2 linked regions of the Homo sapiens genome follow. The protein of the gene in region 2 interacts with the protein of the main gene of each other region in a biochemical or structural test. Each region holds a gene or a part of one and is shown on either strand. Other genes may lie near its edges. The genes, in order: TOLLIP and WRNIP1.

Evidence for each region.
Region 1: the proteins of WRNIP1 (region 2) and TOLLIP form a complex in vitro, tested with the Homo sapiens proteins (one study listed by BioGRID).

Annotation. Positions count from the first base shown.
Region 1 is NC_000011.10:1,303,068-1,306,881, reverse strand, and holds part of TOLLIP (toll-interacting protein), read left to right. Parts: intron 1-3,814. UniProt on the Homo sapiens protein: Component of the signaling pathway of IL-1 and Toll-like receptors. Inhibits cell activation by microbial products. Recruits IRAK1 to the IL-1 receptor complex. Inhibits IRAK1 phosphorylation and kinase activity.
Region 2 is NC_000006.12:2,784,691-2,787,534, reverse strand, and holds the end of WRNIP1 (ATPase WRNIP1), read right to left. Parts: intron 2,529-2,844; coding exon 2,253-2,528; 3' UTR 583-2,252; downstream 1-582. UniProt on the Homo sapiens protein: Functions as a modulator of initiation or reinitiation events during DNA polymerase delta-mediated DNA synthesis. In the presence of ATP, stimulation of DNA polymerase delta-mediated DNA synthesis is decreased.

The sequences.
Region 1 (3,814 bases), on a different chromosome or scaffold from region 2:
GGGCAGGGCACGGAAAGAGAGGTGTGGGGTCTGGAGGTGGAGAGGAGGGAGCCCCAGGGGCCGAGGATGGAGGGAGGCAGGAGCTGGAGGCCGCCGGAGGGTCCTGGGCACAGGAGGACTGGACTTGCCCTGGAGTTTACCGGCTCAGCGCAGCACTCTGTAAAGTGTTGCCTGGCACACGCAAGGCAGGGCCCGCCTTGGCACCAGCCTGCTTCGCTGAGCATGACCCACCCCAGCCCCTCTGAATTAACCCATAGTGGGCCTTTACCCAGTTACTAGCACCTAGAGGAGCCCTGCTTTTGCAGGATGTCTTGACACAGTATTTATCATGTCCTCTTTCTGTTACACCTGTGGTGCCAGAGAGGCAGGAGGTTAAGCAGGGCGCTCGCTCAGCTTTCCAGCAGAAAGAGATGCTCCCCAGGGTCCGGGGGCAGGACTCTGGCTCGGGAGACCCTGACTGTGGTCTAGCCGTTGCCTCCCCCTAGTGATAAGGGGAGACGGCAAGATCCCATGGGCCGTGAAGGAGCAGAGGGGCCGCTAATGGGGTCCTGGGAGGGTTCTTTTGTCCTTGGGTAGAGGGAGCTTCAGGGGCCCGGGTGGGTAGGTGTGGAGAGGACGTGTGAAGCTAGCCAGCCCGACATCGTTCTGAGAGAATCATACCGTGTTTAGATCTTCAGGATAATGGTTCCCTGAATAGCCACTAAGGGATGCTTCAGCCCTGTGCAGTGCTTCCCTCACGTTTCAAAAAGGCCAGTATTTTGGAAAGATAACCTTTTTTCAATATAGTCTGCATATTATCAGAAAGCATGGGTGAGTACCTGCAAGGAGTACCATGTGGACCCCTGCGAGGGGTACCGTGGGGGCCCCTGCGAGGGGTACTGTGTGGACCCCTGTGAGGAGTATCATGGGGGCCCCTGCGAGGGGTACCGTGCGGGCCCCCGCGAGGAGTATCGAGGAGTACCGTGTGGACCCCTGCCTTCTGCAGTGAGATCTCGGGACGTTTGCGGGAGACTCCGCTGCAGCCACCGCGGTGCCGTCAGAGAGGCCTCCTTGGTAGAGGTGGGTGCGCTGTGCCGTGTCCAGGCTGCTCTGACTCCTTGTCCTGCTTCTGGAGGTGCTGGTTGGCCATGGAGTCCAGCTGGAGGCGGCCTGGCCCCTCCCTTCCTCCCTGAGAGGCCTGTTCCTGTCCAGGTCCCCTCACTCTTCACATCGTTGATAATTCCTGCCGAATCGGTGACTTCATTAGGGATGGCAGAGGGTAGTTTCTGAACTTTATCACTTCTTCGGTGTTTATTAACTGGGATTGTTTGTAAAGATTAGCTTTCCCCATCAACCGGTGTCGGCTGGCTGTCCTGAAACACAATTCGTGAAAGAAAGGCAAGTGAGATGCTTTTCCCTCATCTTCCCGTACCTCAAGGAGAGAGTTGCTTTTCTTTGTAGATGTGTGTGGGCTTTCTCTCCCCTGAGTGTTGTGAAGAGCCCGTGGATTTTCCTGCATCCTGTGTGTCTGAGCCAGTGGCACTTACCCGTCTCCGCTGGCTCTGGTGGGCTGCTCCTGGGAGGGCGTCCGTTCCTGCTGACTGCACCTGAGCCAGCGGGGAACGCACTCACCGCCTCCTCACGAGTCCTTTCTCTCTGGGTTCCTGTGAACCTTTGCGCTGGATTTTTTAGGCCGGGTTGTGAGTCTGTACAGGTGTGGAATTGCTGTGCTTGCCTGGAAATCACATCTTTTCACTGTGTGGGGACCCACGGGCCTCTTGGAAGATAAAGGCCTCTTGCCTTTGATTATTTTGTCTGATACTGGCATGGCCACCCCAGCTGTCTTTTAGAGAGTATTCACCTAGTACTTTTTCCTTCTATGATTTTACATTTTTCTGAAAACTTTTGTTTAAGACACGTGCACCATCGATAGCACGTAGCTGGATTTTTAAAAAGTCAAATCTAAGAAGACTAAGTCTTTTGATGGGAATGCGCTAGTTTCATCTTTCTAGTTAAGAGATGCCTAGATGGATACACAGATTTACAGATTTTTTACATGTTTTCTTTGGTGCTTTTATTTGTCCTACATTTTCTTATTTTTTTTCTCTCATTGCCTTTTGAATTTATTAAATGGAGTTTTAAAAAATTCAGTTGTTTTATCTCAAGTACATACACACTGTGCTGGGAAAGTACAGGGGCTCCCCTGGAAATGGTAACATGCACTTATCAGCTTCTGCCATGAGGGAGTCTCTGAGTGAACTCTGGCTCCGGAGGCTGCCCGGCTAAAGAATAAATAAAGAAGAAGTTAATCATTGTCTGTGCCACCTCCGGATCCACGCGGAGACCTCGGCCGCCCCGTCCTGGCGCGGGTGCTGCTGTGCCTTGTGTGGGTGCTACCTCCCCTTGGGGCTCCCGCAGGAATGTGTTACTTCTCTCGAGTCAGCGCTTGTTTAGATTTCCTTCTGTGTTTCTCTTTTCTTATCCCTTCTGGTGTCTCGGGCCTTCCATTTGGGGTCACTTTCCTTTAGCTTCAGGTTCATCTAGAATTTTCCTTGCTGGCAAACTTGATTTTTGCTTGTACATGCCTTTTCTCTGTGTCCTGACAGCTATTTTTGTGTGTGTGGAACTCCAGGTGGGCGGTACTCCAGGTGGACAGTACTCCCGGTGGACGGTCACTTGTCCTCAGTGCCTCGAAGGTGGGACCCCGCCCTCTCCTGGCTCCTGGAGTGGCTGCTGAGCAGCCCGGGAGTGGATGTCCCTTCCTCCGGCTTTCCTTCGTTTTTGGCCCTCTGTTTGCTGCCTTCTGAATACGCTGCTTCTGGCCTGCCTCCCAGTTCACTTGAGGTCTTTTTTTTTTTTTTTTTTTTTACATGGAGGCTCGCTCTGTAGCCCAGGCTGGAGTGCAGTGGCACAATCTCAACTCACTGCAACCTCTTCCTCCCAGGTTCAAGCGATTTTCCTGCCTCAGACTCCCGAGTAGCTGGGATTACAGGCGTCCACCACCACGCCCAGCTAATTTTTGTATTTTTAGTAGAGATGGGGTTTCACCATGTTGGCCAGGCTGTTCTCGAACTCCTGGTCTCAAGTGATCCGCCCACCTCAGCCTCCCAAAGTTTTGGGATTACAGGCGTGAGCCACTGCACCCGGCCCTAACCTCTGTTCATCTGGGCCTCTAACACTGTCCCTTGACCTGCCCGACAGGCCCCTGGTTAGGCCTGCTGTGCAAGTGTTTCCTGTCCCTGAGTCACTGTCTCCAGATCCTGCGGGCCCTGCCCTGGCACCGTGCTGGTGAGGCCTGCCTTGCTGCCCTGTGGGAAGTGCAGCGTGCCCCTGCCACCCGGCCTTGCCCTGTTTCTTTGCACAGCGCCTCCTGCCGTTAGCATACAGCATAACTCATGATGCTTCCCGTTTGTCTTCTTCCACTCACGTGTAAGCATCCCAGGAGCAGGGGTGCCCCAGCACCTCACCATGGAAGCCTCAGGCACACAGTGACACGCAGAGGCTGCCGCAGCGCGCGCCCTGTGCCCGGCGCCCAGGGCCTGCCACGTCACATGCCGTCCCTCTCTGGATCTCTGTCCGCCCTTGGCCTGCTGCTTGACTGGCTTTTGTTTCATCTGAATGAGAAGGGGTTTTCCGCCTCTGCCTTGCTTGACCGTCCCAGCACTTAGGATGCAAGGCTGCCTGCAGTGGAGTTCCTGGCAGAGACCCCATTTAAAGTCGCTTGTTCTGTAGTCAGCTTTTATAATCTATGCTTATTCTCATTCTGTCCTGTACTCTTCCCTTTCACCGCTCTTCAGCTTACACGGGTTCGTTTCAATACTGTCATCTCCCAGCT
Region 2 (2,844 bases):
GGCGCCTTTGCACTTGCTTTTCCCTCTGCCTGGGATGATCCTTTCCCGGGTGTCTGAAAGGCACATTCACTTCCTTGAAGTCTTGACTCAAACACTTTCTTGGTGAGATCCACCTTGGCTACTCTACTAAAACTGCACCCATACCTCCCCTTTCCATATTCAATCTTTCATTCATTTTCTCCTTAGCATAGCACTTATCACTATTTGGCATATTAACATATTATTTTTCATACCATAGGCTTTAAGAACACAGAATTTTTGGTCTCTTCTGCTCACTGATGTGTTTTAACATCAACAAGAATGCTCAGCATAAAACAGGCACTCAATATTTATTGAGGCCGGGCGCGGTGGCTCACGCCTGTCATCCCAGCACTTTGGGAGGCTGAGGTGGGTGGATCACCCGAGGTCAGGAGTTCGAGACCAGCCTGACCAACATGGTGAAACCCCCGTCTCTACTAAAAATACAAAAATTAGCCTTGTGTGGTGGTGTGCGCCTGTAATCCCAACTACTTGGGAGGCTGAGGCAGGAGAATCGCTTGAACCTGGGAGGTGGAGGTTGCAGTGAGCCGAGATCGCATCATTGCCCTCCAGCCTGGGAAAAAGAGCAAGAGTTGGTCTCATAAATAAATAAATTTATTGAATAAAAAAAGAAACTTCCCTAGAACTGAAAGGAGTTTCCAGATTGAAAGGCCCAACAAGTACCCAGTGCAGACTTTTAAAACACGGGGAGCAAAGACAGAAGAGTCTACAAGTTGATAGAGGTTACAAACAAAAGACCACACACATCAGGATGCCTTCAAACTTGACAACAATGTGGGAAAGTGTAAAACAATGCACAAGTAATTTCTTACCTACAATTTATTACTAGCCAAACCCTCAGACACGTCTGAAGGTACAATAAAAGCATTTTGAGTCTCCTGAGGTCTAAAAATACTTTTCCTCCACACACCCCTGCTCCATAAAGCTACTAGAGGGTACATGCCACCTGTGCCAGAAAGCAGTCAGTCCTGTCATCAGATGGGGTGCAGGGAGAAGCAGAGGAAAGCTCCAGGGTGATGATGAAGGGAGATTCTGGGGATGGCAACTGCACACTGCAGTGCAACCACTCCAGACAGAAGGAGGGAGGCCAGTCGGGCCAAGCCTCTGCAACATACAGTCCCTCCAGCCTGATAAAACTACTAGAGGATGGGTTGCACTGAAATAGCGGAATAAACCAGTAAGGCGGGATGGAGCATCCAGAAAATGGGCATCTCACTCAGAATAAAGGCAGAGGACGTCCCAGGCCAACAGCCGGCAGCCTTCCAGACATGGCAGGAGGACCCCAGGAGGGATCACGCAACAGCAGGAGGAGAACCGACTACCTGAAGGGGCCATCCTTGTGGGCATATGCACGACATGCAACTAAGGAGAGGGAGAGGAAGTAGCAGTAGGGACAAATAACTCTTAACTGAGCAGAAGGAGTGGCGTATTTTGTGTTCAGGACACACATAAAGTAAAAGAAAAACGACTGTTTAGAAATATGGAGCTGCAAGAAGAAACCAGGACAAGTGGGAAAAAATGGGCATGGGACTACTGGAGTCTTCCACAAGCCATTTAAAGAATTCCTTTATGTATTCCTTTAAAGAGATCAGAGTTAACTTTCAACAAGATAACACTGACTTCTTAACTTAAGCTCCCCACTCTTCCCATCTGGGGTGATTTCTCCTTCCCAGTATCCACCCACCAAATGCAATGGTGACAACGCTGGTACCTAGCATCCAGGCAGGAAAACCATGACAGAATCGAAGAGTACTTTGAAATAGTTTTATTGGCTCGTAAGACCTTTGCATATAAAAAAAATACCCAAAACACTATGCAGTATTAAATCACAATTACATTTTTTTACCAATTAAAACTACCCAGAATATACATTTTTTAAAGAAAAGAAAATCCTACAGAACTGAATTCTGAAATGACATTATGACTTAAATACTATGACAAAATAGATAATTCCTTATAACATTAATTCATTGCACAAAGCTGCCAGGTATTTTCATAAGCATAACCGCTGCACCGAGTGCAAATGAACACAATTTCAAAGTTACACATTTATTCGAAAGAACTGCGCCTCCACCTATGGAACTCTTAAATTTCTGGCACAAAATGTTGGTCTGTTCTAACTTCCACCAGGCAACCAACTTTGCAATCCACTAACTTTCTTTCTGGCCCTCCCTTAAAAAAGCAACATCCTTCTGCTGTCGTGCCCTGAGGAGTCAGCACCTCCTCTGCTTGAAGAAATCTACCCCCCTCAACTCTTCAGGCAGGTACTCCTGATCCACAGGCTCGCTGTACATGGGGTTGTACTTGTAGCCTTTGCCATAGCCCAAATCCTTCATCAGCCTAGTGGGCGCGTTCCTCAGGTGCAGGGGCACGGGGGGCAGTGGCCCCTGGTGGTTCCTCAGGCAGGCTTTGACGTTGTTGTAGGCGCTGTACACCTCAATGGACTTTGGGGCTCTGGCAAAGTAGACCACACACTGGGCCAGAAGCACCTACCAATGACACAGAGGACACATTTTACTAGCAAGATGCCAAGCTTCTGTTCTGCAGAGCCCCTTCTGATACACAGCTCTAGGTAATTCTGAGAAGATCCCCACATGCTTTTATTATCCCCCTTTTGCGCCTACAGTCTGGATAACCACCTACGACAGACAGAAGAAATTCTCATGAGGTGAAACGAGAGGCAAACCAGGTGAGTGGTTTTCATTTTTTTTTTTAACTGAAGGACTTTTTACTACATTAAATTTTTCTTAAGCCCCCAATATATAAAAGAGATGAATATGAAGCTGCTCTGGGGGCGAACTTGCA